Homo sapiens: one gene and its partner. The protein of the gene in region 1 interacts with the protein of each later gene in a pairwise test. Each region holds a gene or a part of one and is shown on either strand. Other genes may lie near its edges. The genes, in order: FCRL3 and MS4A1.

Region 1 (7,296 bases):
ATCATATAAAACAATGATGATAGATAGATACATACATACATACATACATACATACATACATACATAGACAGATGTCAGGTAGTGCTAAATGCTATGTAGAAAAATAAAGCAAGGTGATTAGGTAGAGAGTAATGGGTCCTGCCTTTAGATAGGTATGGAAGTCTCAGTCTTAGAGCTAAGATTCAGGTGTAGGAATTTTAGAAACCTTGATTTTAGCTATATTTTTATCAATAATAATAACCAATTTTTATAGTACTTTACATGCAATATGATTTTTATTACAATAGCTTGAGATATAATGTATCATTAACTCAGTTTTACAGAGGAATAAACTAAGACTTAGAGAAATTAAAAAGTTCTTAAAAAATCAAGCTTATAGAGCTAATAAAGGATAGAGACAGGATTGAAGCCCAGGTTCTCCAGAATCCAGGTGCATGTTCCCGCAACTCAACTATGCTGCATATTCCTTTATTAAGTTCTCTTGTATACCTACTTAAGTAAAACTGCCAGTGAACTATTTTTCCTCCCTCAGTTCCGGTGTCTCGCCCCGTCCTCACCCTCAGGGCTCCCGGGGCCCAGGCTGTGGTGGGGGACCTGCTGGAGCTTCACTGTGAGTCCCTGAGAGGCTCCTTCCCGATCCTGTACTGGTTTTATCACGAGGATGACACCTTGGGGAACATCTCGGCCCACTCTGGAGGAGGGGCATCCTTCAACCTCTCTCTGACTACAGAACATTCTGGAAACTACTCATGTGAGGCTGACAATGGCCTGGGGGCCCAGCACAGTAAAGTGGTGACACTCAATGTTACAGGTGTGTTAATAGTACCTGGGCTAGAGGTCACAGTTATGGTAAATAAAATAGTTATCTGACAGATTGTACAAATTCTACTAGCACCAAGGAGGTTTTGAACATGCACACGAAGGCTTGGGACTTCTGGAGATTGGTACTGATTTTATATGGGAGAGGGAAAGGAAATACATTTTAATCTTAGATGCTGGAGAATACCTTTCATATGCCATAGTTTTGAAAATTACAAATGATGCTACAGGAGGAATCAGAAACTGGAACACACTCACCCTACTTGCATGATTTTGTCTGTATCCAAAACCTGTGCCACTGAAACTCAAGTACAGCTCCCTCCACTCAGGAACTTCCAGGAACAGAACAGGCCTTACCGCTGCGGGAATCACGGGGCTGGTGCTCAGCATCCTCGTCCTTGCTGCTGCTGCTGCTCTGCTGCATTACGCCAGGGCCCGAAGGAAACCAGGTGGGTGTCTAGGTCCTACCTTGTGATGTGATTTTGCCGTTGCTATAATAATTTGAAGTTGTCTGGTGCACCCTATAAAGGTCAAGTATTCCCTTCCAAGTACTAGGCCCTCAGTTCCACTACTCACTGTCACTCTGTAGGCAATTGTAGCAAAAACAATAGAATAAACTTCTCAATAAAATTTTTACCTCATGTGTTTAATTTGAGATTTATATTAGGTAGCAGAGTTTTGCTTCCAATTAAAAATTAGAAAATTAATTAACTCATGTTCTATCTCCCTAAGAAAGTCCTTCATTTGTAACAAAAAATAAATAAATCATCATAGAGGTGACCATAAACTCCGAGATATATTTGAATGCCAGCTAAATGTAGTGAAATTGGATAAAATAAATAAAGAATGCCAAAAATGAGATTAAAAATTCAATTTCCGATTGTTGCTAGTGTATAGAAACACAACTAATTTTAATATTAATTTTATATCCTGAAATCTTGCTAGACTGACTTATTAGTTCAGTATCTCTTTTGCAGATTTCATCAGATGTTCTATATAGATGATCATGTTGTCTGCAAAGAAAGATAGTTTAACTCTTTCCTTTCCAATATTAATTTCTTTTACTTCTTGTTCTTGCTTAATTGCACTGGTTAGAACCTCCTGTACAATGCTGAGTGCAAGTGGTGAGAGAAAATATTCTTATCACATTCCAGATCTTAGGGGGAAAGTATTCAATCTCTCCCCATTACAGATTACTTTAGCCATGGGTTTTTTTCAATGCTGTTTATCTGGTGGAGGAAGTCCCTCCTATTCCTAATTTGCTGAGAGATTTTACACAAATAAATTTTTGTAAAATGATTTTTCTACATTTATTGAGATAGTAATGAGATTTTTTTTAGTCTATTGATAAGGTGAATTTTGAATGTCGAAGTAGCCTTATATTTCTGGGGTCAACCCAACTTGGTCATGACTGTTGATTTGATTTGCTAAAATTTTGCAAAGGATGTTTACGTCCATGTTTATGAGGAAAATTTGTTGTTAGCTTTCATTTCTAGAAATGTCTTTTTATGATTTGGTCTCAAAGGAATACTTACTCAGTTACCACTTCCAGAATTTTTCATTCCTTTTTATATAGCCATATTTTCACCTGGTATCAATTTTGTTCTGCCTGAAGGACCTTTTTTTTTTTTTTAACATTTCTTACAGTATGACTGCCTGCCAGTGAATTTGATTGATAATGTTTCTCAATTCCTCTATATCCTTACTGATTTTTTGTCTACCTGATCTATCAATTACTGAGATAGGGGAATTAAAATCTTTAACTGTAATTGTGAATTTATCCATTTCTTCTGCAATTCTATCAAGTTTTGCTTCCAGAATTTGGAATTGCTCATTATTAGGTGGATAAGTGTTAAGAATTTTCATGTTTTTGATGAATTATCCACTTTATCCTTATGAAATGACCCTCTGTATCCCTGGTTGAATCACTTACTGTGAAACAGTCTTTGTCTAATATTAATATGTTAATATAATTAGTGTTAGCATGTGATTTTTTTCCATCCTTTTGCTTTTAGCCTATTTGTACCCCTATATTTAAAGTTAATTTTTAATAGATAGCATGCAGCTAATTCTTGCCGGTTTTGTTTAGTTTAATATTGTAGTCTGCCTTTAAAATGAGGTGTTTAGACCATTTGCACTAGTGTAATTATTGATATGATTAGGTTTCATGTCTATTTTGCTATTTGCTTTCTATTTGTCACATCTATTTTTTGCTTTACTTTGACTTATTTTTGGAATAATTGATTTTTTAATTCTATTTTACTTCCTTTGTTAGTATAATAGCCATAACTTTTTAAAAATTTTCAACTTTTATTTTAGATGTAAGGGGTAAATGTGTGGATTGGTTACATGGTTATATTGCATGATATTGAGATTTGGGGTACAGATCCTGTCACCCAGATAGTAAGCATAGTACCCAATAGGTAGTTTTTCAACTCACACATTCCTCCCCATCTCCCCCATCTAGTAGTCCACAGTGTCTGTTGTTCCCATGTTTATGTCCATGTTTGCTCAATGTTTAGGTCCCACTTATAAGTGAGAACATGTGGTATTTGGTTTTCTGTTCTTGTGTTAGTTGGTTTATGATTATGGCCTCCAGTTAAATCTATGTTGCTGCAAAAGACATGATTTCATTTTTTTATGTCTGCGTAGTATTCCATGGTGTATATGTACCACATTTTCTTTATCCAGTCTACCACTGGTGGGCACCTAGATTGATACCATATCTTTGCTATTGTGAATAGTATGGCAATGAACATATGAGTGCATGTGTCTTTTTGACAGAATGATTTATTTTTTTGTGAGCGTATACCAATAACAGAATTACTAGGTTGAATGGTAGCTCTATTATAAGTTCTTTGAGAAATCTCCAAACCCCTTTCCACAGTGGTTAAACTAACTTAAATTCCCACCAACAGTGTATAAGCATTCCCTTTTCTCCTCAGCCTCACCAGCACCTATTGTTTTCTGACTTTTAAGTAATAGCCATTCTGACTGGTGTGAGATAGTATCTGATGGTGGTTTTGATTTCCATTTCTCTGGAGATTAGTGATGTTGAGCATTTTTTTATGTTTGTTGGCTGCTTGCTTGACTTCTTTTGAGAAGTGGCTGTTCATGTCCTTCACTTATATTTTAATGGGGTTATTTGGTTTTTGCTTGTTGATTTGTTTAAGTTCCTTACAGGTCTCAACATTAGACTTCTGTCAGATGCATAGTTTCCTAATATTTTCTCCCATTCTATAGGTTGCCTGTTTACTCTGTTGATAATTTCTTTTGCCGTGCAGAAGCTCTTTAGTTTAATTAAGTCACACTTGTCAATTTTTGTTTTTGTTGCAATTGCTTTGGGAACTTAGCCAAAAATTCTTGGCCAAAGCTGATGTCAAGGATTGTATTTCCTAGGTTTTCCTCTAGGAATTTTATAGTTTGGAGTCCTACATTTAAATCTTTGATCCATCCTGAATTAAGTTTTGTATATGGTGAAAAGTAGGGGTCTAGTTTCAGTTTTCTGAATATGGCTAGCAAGTTATCCCAGCACCATTTATTGAATAGACAGTCATTTCCCCATTGCTTCTTTTTGTTAGCCTTGGCAAAGATCAGATGGTTGTAGGTGTGAATCTTTATTTCTGAGTTTTCTATTCCATTCCGTTGGTCTATGTGTCTGTTTTTGTATCAGTACTATACTATTTTGATTACTGTAGGCTTATAGTATAGTTTGAAGTTGTGAGGTGTGATGCCTTCAGCTTTGCTGTCTTTGCTTAGGAATGCTTTGGCTATTTGGGCTCTTTTTTGGTTCCATATGAATTTTAAAATAGATTTTTCTAATTCTGTGAAGAATGATATTGGTAATTTGATAGGAATAATATTGAATCTGTAAATTTCTTTGGGCAGTATGGCCATTTTAACAATATTAATTCTTCCAATCTATGAGCATGCAATATTTTTCCATTTATTTGTGTTGTCTTTATTTCAGCATTTTTTTTTTTAATTTCTCGCAGAGATCTTTCACCTCCTTTGTTAGCTGTATTCCTAGGTATTTCATTTTCTTTGTGGCTATTCAAAATGGAATTGTACCATTGATTTAACTCTTTGCCTGACTTTGTTGATGTATAGAAATGCTACTGGTTTTTGTACCTTAATTTTGTGTCCTGAAACCTTACTCTTGGCAGAGTCTTGAGGGCTTTCAAGTTAGAGAGTCATGCAGTCAGTGAAAAGAGAAAGTGTGACTTATTTAGCTATTTGGGTGCTTTTTATTTCTTTCTCTTGCCTGGTTGCTCTGGCTAGGAATTTCAGGACTATCTTGAATAGGCGTAGTGATAGTGGACATGCATAGTTGTGTCCCTTTTTCATTAATTAAAAAAAATTTTTTTATTTATGCATTAATTTTTATCTTTACCCAGGAGTTATTCAGGAGTAAGTTGTCTAATTTCCATGTATTTGTTAGTTTTGAGAGATCTTCTTGATATTTATTTCTATTTTTATTGCACTGTAGTCTAAGAGTGTACTTGGTATGATTTTTTAAAAAAATTTATTGATATCTGCTTTATGGCCCAGCATATGGCTGATCCTAGGATATGTTCCACATGCAGGTGAGAAGAATGTATATTCCATAGTTGCCGGATAGAATATTCTGTAGATGTGTGTTAGGTCTATTTGGTCAAGTGTCAAGTTTCTTTGTCAGTTTTCTGACAAAGTCCAGAGTTTCTTTGTCAGTTTTCTGCCTCGATGATCTGTCTAACTCTGTCAGTGGGATATTGAAATCTCCCACTATTATTGTGTGACTGTCCAGGTTTTTTTGTAGATCAAGAGGAACTTGTTTTATGATTCTGGGTGCTGCAATGTTGGGTGCATATATATTTAGAATAGTTAAGTTTTCTTGTTGGAAGCAATAATTATTTGTTTTGTTACTCTGGTGATTGCTTTAGGGCTTATAGTATACATCTTCAACTTATTGCTGTTTTCAAGTGAAATTATATTACTTATAGAAGGCTAGTCACACCTCCTACTTCCAAAATTACTTTTCTTTTTTTCCTCTCATTGTTTATCTGGGATGCCATTTTCTAATCTATAACATACTAAAAGAAGACATTTGAATCTCAGTGTTGAGGTTGTCAGTCAGCACAGCACCAGGAGAGAAAACTGACAATCATTTCACATGATCCATGTGAACAGAAGCCCAGGTGGTCTGTCCCCCAGACTTAGGGGAAGTGTTATTTTAAATAACAAACTCACTAAGGAATTAGGACAGTTCACCAAGCAGAGGGTCTGTGCTCTTCTTTTCTCAAAATCTTGCTTATTGTACCTCCTCATAGCAAAGTCTCCCTTCTCACCATTGACAAGACTTCTCAGGAAGAAGCTCAGACCTTCTACATTTTTCTAAAAGTTAAGGGCTCTGCTCCTTGCCTGAGTGAATCACTCCTAAAAGGAATGATAGGTTTTTTGACTCTATAGTAAATCTGGCTGTGTTGAAATTCCAGTAACAAAACTTGCCAACTTGATATTGGGCAAATAAGTTAAACTCACTAAACTCAGTTTCTTCATCTATGAAGTGGTTATAATAATAACAGTATCTACCTTTTAGGTACTATGACACAACCTAGGTAAACTGCTTAGCACCGTGCTGGCCCATATGTCTTCAAGGAATATTAGCTTGTATAATAAATAGCCACCTGTCTAGGTCTCAGTTTTCTCTTTTACAGATAAGGAGATAGACTGACTCCCAGATGCATTCTAGGTCGGAGCTAACCACCCACAGAAAAGATACTGGTTATTGACTGATGTGGATTGTGATTGCTCTGAGGAGATTCAGGACCAGATCCTGATCATACCCCTCTAGCTTAACTCAGGAGTCCCACTCCCTGAGGAACAGGGAGTTACTCAGTTATTTTTCATGAGAGTCAAGGCTGGTATGTTTATTTTGAGCAACGACTTGCATTCTCTAAGCCAATGAGACCGATTAGAGCCACAGATTTTAAAAAGGCAAAGGACAAGGATGGGAACCTGGATAAGGCTTGTATTGGGGCAAGCCTGAAAGATTCAATATTTCGGTGATGACGGAAACTTGCCATATTTTTAAGTCTGATAGATTTGGCTTCAAGGATAGACTTCTAACAGGCAATCTCCTTTTAGAAAATTGTCAATTTGTTATTTTTAAGTCCTCAAAGTAAATACTTTGTTCAGTTGTTTAACACATCTTTGTTGAATATTTTTAACTGCTAAGCATGATATTAGGAATACAAAAAAATTTAAGATGAGGTTTACAGCCTCAAGTAGCACACCCTTTCATGAAAGAGAGAAATAGAGGCAAATAGAAATAAATAATTACGAAACAATATAGTAATTTTAATATTACATGGTCTTATGTGCATGGAGACAGTTTACTTAATCCAGCCTGTTGGCATCAGGGACAGCTCTGGAAGAAAGATAAATCGGAGCTAGCCAAGTGAAAGAGAAGGAGAGAAGAGGTGTGGAAAAGCCATT
Region 2 (5,702 bases), on another chromosome or scaffold:
ATTTTTGCTTTATAAAACAGATGGATGGTGAATGAGATAGGGAAGACTGAGAAAAGAACAGGATAGAGACATGATTTTATTTTATAGTGACAAAGAGGCTAAAAACAACTGAGAGAACTTCAGTATATTTAGTTGTAGTTGCTTTGTGAGTCAGGGCAGTTGCATTTGGAATTCCCTCCCAGATTATGTTTTCCAAAGGGAAATCAAACCCAATTAATAAATCTGTGTCTCCATTTCAGGTCAAAGGAAAAATGATAATGAATTCATTGAGCCTCTTTGCTGCCATTTCTGGAATGATTCTTTCAATCATGGACATACTTAATATTAAAATTTCCCATTTTTTAAAAATGGAGAGTCTGAATTTTATTAGAGCTCACACACCATATATTAACATATACAACTGTGAACCAGCTAATCCCTCTGAGAAAAACTCCCCATCTACCCAATACTGTTACAGCATACAATCTCTGTTCTTGGTAAGTGTTCTTGGTAAGTGTGAGATTGGATTTCTCTCCAGGGAGGAAGGATGACTTGTTTATTATGAGCATGAACTCTGGATCCAGACCACCTGAGTTTGCTAGTTACTGTCTGTGTGGCTTTGGGAAAGAATTTTAACCACACTGTGCCTCAATTTCTTCAACTGTAAAATGGGGATGGTAACACTATTTATCTAATAGGGTTGTTCTGAGGAATAAATAAGTTAATATATACAAAGCATTTAGAACAGTGTTTGGTACACAGAAGTGCTATATAAGCATTGGCTTTAACATTAATTATTCTCAACATCATTAATGGCATTAATATTTACCATTATATTAACTAAGATGAGCATAGAAGAAATTCCTAAGATGTTATGAATATCTTTTGCCCAAGGACTTTTAAATGTAGAGTTTGAAAGAGATAAAAAAAAATGCATCTCCCAAGGATGAAGAGGTCTCCTAGGCATGATGCCACACCAACTAAGGCTGAATACAATTTAATTTGAGACTCATTACTTATTCTTTCCTATACAGAATTGATTCTTCAACTGATTATTCATACCTTACTTTCTATCAGCAATACACATTAACCATCTGTTGTGTGCCAAAAGTTGTGTTAAGAGTTAGGGTTATAAAGATGCTGTCTCCTGTACTAGCAGTTCTCACAGCTATTCATTACTTGTCTAAAGAATTGATCTCTTAATCGTTCAATTATAGTCAACAATAACTTACTGAACACCAACAATGTTCTTTGTGCCATTATTACATTTTCACCTTCATTCTTCTGTTGTTTTTCAGGGCATTTTGTCAGTGATGCTGATCTTTGCCTTCTTCCAGGAACTTGTAATAGCTGGCATCGTTGAGAATGAATGGAAAAGAACGTGCTCCAGACCCAAATCTGTAAGTAGTAGCCCCTCTGGCCAAAACCTCCCTCTAGAAAATCCACATCCACAAAGGATCATTTATGGAGAATGTAATCTGATGAGTTGTTGAAACTAGGAGCTTGATTTAAAAAAAAAAATTGGTCTTGGCATATTTCTAGAAAGCAAATAATATGATGTCTTGAAATTTGAAATAAGTCTGTAGTTAGAGCCTACAGTTCTATATTCTGTGCGTCTTTTTTTTTTTTTTTTTTGAGACAGAGTCTCACTTTGTTGCCCAGGCTAGAGTGCAATGGCGCGATCTTGGCCCAGTGCAACCTCTGCCTCCGGGTTCAGGCGATTCTCCTGCCTCACCCTCCCGAGTAGCTGGGATTACAGGCACCCGCCATCATGCCTGGCCAATTTTTGTATTTTTGTAGAGACGGGGGTTCACCATGTTGGCCAGGCCAGTCTTGAACTCCCGACCTCAGGTGATCCTCCCACCTCAGCCTCCGAAAGTGCTGGGATTGCAGGCGTGAGCCACCATGCCCCACCTCTGTGCATCTTCTTATTAACCTTCCCTGCTGCTTGACTTCAGGCTTCCATCCTGATTTCATGATTCCATATACAGTGTGTAAAAGCAAGATGGTTGAAGGTTGAAGGCTAAGTCACTAGTTCTTTGGTTTCATTTTTCAGTATTCCCCTCTTCCCTCCTTTTCACCTAATTCCTCTTCCAAAACAACAGGTTAAAGGGCTCCACAAATGGGAAATAAAAACAGACCAATAATAGATATATTACTAACTGCTTCAGAACCAGACTGTTAGATTTAGAATTTAGAAATCATCGCTAATTACTTCATTTTGCATTTAAAGAAAAATAGTATCAAAGAGAGAAAATTATTCTCCCAGAGTTATATTCACTAAAGGCAAATCAGAACGAAAATCTAAACTCCTCTATTACTGCAATGTTCTTTTCCCAATACCACGTGGTCATTCCAGGCACTGTGGTCAATGTCTGCTGCCCTTGAAGATTTATTCAGACTTGAGTTTTAATAAATGACTTGATAAGGATATAAGCACCTGCAAAAAAATTTTGGCATTTAAAGGCATATAATAAATGACATAAGTAGCATAAAAACCAGGAGGTATTTGATAAATGTTTGTGGAGATTGTTGACAAAGGTGTCAGTGGTAAAAGTAAAGAATGGTTTGTTTAATTTTCTGTTTTAGAACATAGTTCTCCTGTCAGCAGAAGAAAAAAAAGAACAGACTATTGAAATAAAAGAAGAAGTGGTTGGGCTAACTGAAACATCTTCCCAACCAAAGAATGAAGAAGACATTGAAATTATTCCAATCCAAGAAGAGGAAGAAGAAGAAACAGAGACGAACTTTCCAGAACCTCCCCAAGATCAGGAATCCTCACCAATAGAAAATGACAGCTCTCCTTAAGTGATTTCTTCTGTTTTCTGTTTCCTTTTTTAAACATTAGTGTTCATAGCTTCCAAGAGACATGCTGACTTTCATTTCTTGAGGTACTCTGCACATACGCACCACATCTCTATCTGGCCTTTGCATGGAGTGACCATAGCTCCTTCTCTCTTACATTGAATGTAGAGAATGTAGCCATTGTAGCAGCTTGTGTTGTCACGCTTCTTCTTTTGAGCAACTTTCTTACACTGAAGAAAGGCAGAATGAGTGCTTCAGAATGTGATTTCCTACTAACCTGTTCCTTGGATAGGCTTTTTAGTATAGTATTTTTTTTTGTCATTTTCTCCATCAACAACCAGGGAGACTGCACCTGATGGAAAAGATATATGACTGCTTCATGACATTCCTAAACTATCTTTTTTTTATTCCACATCTACGTTTTTGGTGGAGTCCCTTTTGCATCATTGTTTTAAGGATGATAAAAAAAAATAACAACTAGGGACAATACAGAACCCATTCCATTTATCTTTCTACAGGGCTGACATTGTGGCACATTCTTAGAGTTACCACACCCCATGAGGGAAGCTCTAAATAGCCAACACCCATCTGTTTTTTGTAAAAACAGCATAGCTTATACATGGACATGTCTCTGCCTTAACTTTTCCTAACTCCCACTCTAGGCTATTGTTTGCATGTCTACCTACTTTTAGCCATTATGCGAGAAAAGAAAAAAATGACCATAGAAAATGCCACCATGAGGTGCCCAAATTTCAAATAATAATTAACATTTAGTTATATTTATAATTTCCAGATGACAAAGTATTTCATCAAATAACTTCATTTGATGTTCCATGATCAAGAAAGAATCCCTATCTCTATTTTACAAGTAATTCAAAGAGGCCAAATAACTTGTAAACAAGAAAAGGTAACTTGTCAACAGTCATAACTAGTAATTATGAGAGCCTTGTTTCATAACCAGGTCTTCTTACTCAAATCCTGTGATGTTTGAAATAACCAAATTGTCTCTCCAATGTCTGCATAAACTGTGAGAGCCAAGTCAACAGCTTTTATCAAGAATTTACTCTCTGACCAGCAATAAACAAGCACTGAGAGACACAGAGAGCCAGATTCAGATTTTACCCATGGGGATAAAAAGACTCAGACTTTCACCACATTTGGAAAACTACTTGCATCATAAATATATAATAACTGGTAGTTTATATGAAGCAGACACTAAGTGCTATAGACACTCTCAGAATATCATACTTGGAAACAATGTAATTAAAATGCCGAATCTGAGTCAACAGCTGCCCTACTTTTCAATTCAGATATACTAGTACCTTACCTAGAAATAATGTTAACCTAGGGTGAAGTCACTATAATCTGTAGTCTATTATTTGGGCATTTGCTACATGATGAGTGCTGCCAGATTGTGGCAGGTAAAGAGACAATGTAATTTGCACTCCCTATGATATTTCTACATTTTTAGCGACCACTAGTGGAAGACATTCCCCAAAATTAGAAAAAAAGGAGATAGAAGATTTCTGTCTATGTAAAGTTCTCAAAATTTGTTCTAAATTAATAAAACTATCTTTGTGTTCTTTTCTGCAACAGATGATTCCAACATGGGTGTTTGTCTATTCTTCTTTACTCTTGAAACATTAGACCATGGGAGGCTCTTACAGCCTTGAGTTGATATTTATACAACCCAAATCTAGGTTTGAACGGTGAGGTGTCAGGTCATCAAATATTCATGTCTATATAGTCTTACACAGGTTCTCAAAAAAAATGTTCATGGGATAGGTCATTGATAATGGATTCCTTATTCTGAGAACTCCAGACGACTGAAATATATGAGAGAAGGAAAAGGACATAGTAGGAGCAGGCCTGAGAAAAAAATGAAAGTCAGAAATCTTTAAAAAAATACAAGATCTTATTTCTATCTTATTTTTTCTCCTCTTCTGAAATATATATGAGGATTCCTCTCCAAACCCATGGTTTCTCTAAGAATTTTGAGTCATTTGTATGACCTCAAATAATTAGTTTTAGCTGACCTCACATAACTCCTTATAATAGGAGACATCTTTAATGTCTGCTATTAAAGAAGGATGAAAATTCCTATGACCTTCTCCCCGATTATCCCTTTGGCAATATAGAGTCAAATAATAACATTGACCAATAGTAAACATGCTTTGCCAAGAAGTAGAAGATATATTCTCTAGCCTTAGTTTTTCCTCCCAATTTGCATTTTTGTAAAAATAATGTTGTATCCACAAAGGAAATAAACTTTAAAAACCCAAGTGCACTCATTGACTAGGAGGCTGACGTAACTTATTTTCATTTTCTTCTGGTTTTCTTATAATCTTTGTTTAAAATAAGGTGATAAACCATCCCAGTTTGTCTGAGTCTGAGGGATTTCCTGGGATACACGATTTTCAATGTTAAAACCAAGATAGTCCCAGGCAAACAGGATAGTTGATTATCCTACTTCATAGTAATAGATTACTCACTTACAATCACTGCATAATATTTACTTTTTACATGTAACAGTATATCATAGATTTTTCCTTATTGATACATAATTTCATAAGCATCACTTAATTTCAACTTAGGATTTTATGAATCAATATAAATTTACCATTCCTCTATTATTGGATATGTAGGGTATTTCCTTTTCTTTCTTTATACAAATCACTTTTGGAGCACAGAAATCATGAGCAAGATACATGTTTCCTCTTATTATTCAAAATGTAGCTTTACATTTAAAGTCTTGTCAACATTGACCAGTAGGAATTACTAGCACCTGTTAAAACCCAGAAAATTTACCTTTAATTTCACATCAACAAGAGAATAGTCAAAGATCCAATACACAGAAATAGTTACTTCAGATTCATTTAGCTTGAGTTCATTTAAGAAATCTGATTTGTTTTAAATTC

Evidence for each region.
Region 2: the proteins of FCRL3 (region 1) and MS4A1 interact in binary tests that used the Homo sapiens proteins (3 or more experiments, as listed by UniProt).

The regions. Positions count from the first base shown.
Region 1 is NC_000001.11:157,683,770-157,691,065, reverse strand, and holds part of FCRL3 (Fc receptor-like protein 3 isoform 1 precursor), read left to right. Parts: intron 1-532; coding exon 533-811; intron 812-1,148; coding exon 1,149-1,268; intron 1,269-7,296. UniProt on the Homo sapiens protein: Promotes TLR9-induced B-cell proliferation, activation and survival but inhibits antibody production and suppresses plasma cell differentiation. Enhances activation of NF-kappa-B and MAPK signaling pathways in TLR9 stimulated B-cells.
Region 2 is NC_000011.10:60,465,682-60,471,383, forward strand, and holds the end of MS4A1 (B-lymphocyte antigen CD20), read left to right. Parts: intron 1-239; coding exon 240-476; intron 477-1,277; coding exon 1,278-1,379; intron 1,380-2,568; coding exon 2,569-2,787; 3' UTR 2,788-5,071; downstream 5,072-5,702. UniProt on the Homo sapiens protein: B-lymphocyte-specific membrane protein that plays a role in the regulation of cellular calcium influx necessary for the development, differentiation, and activation of B-lymphocytes.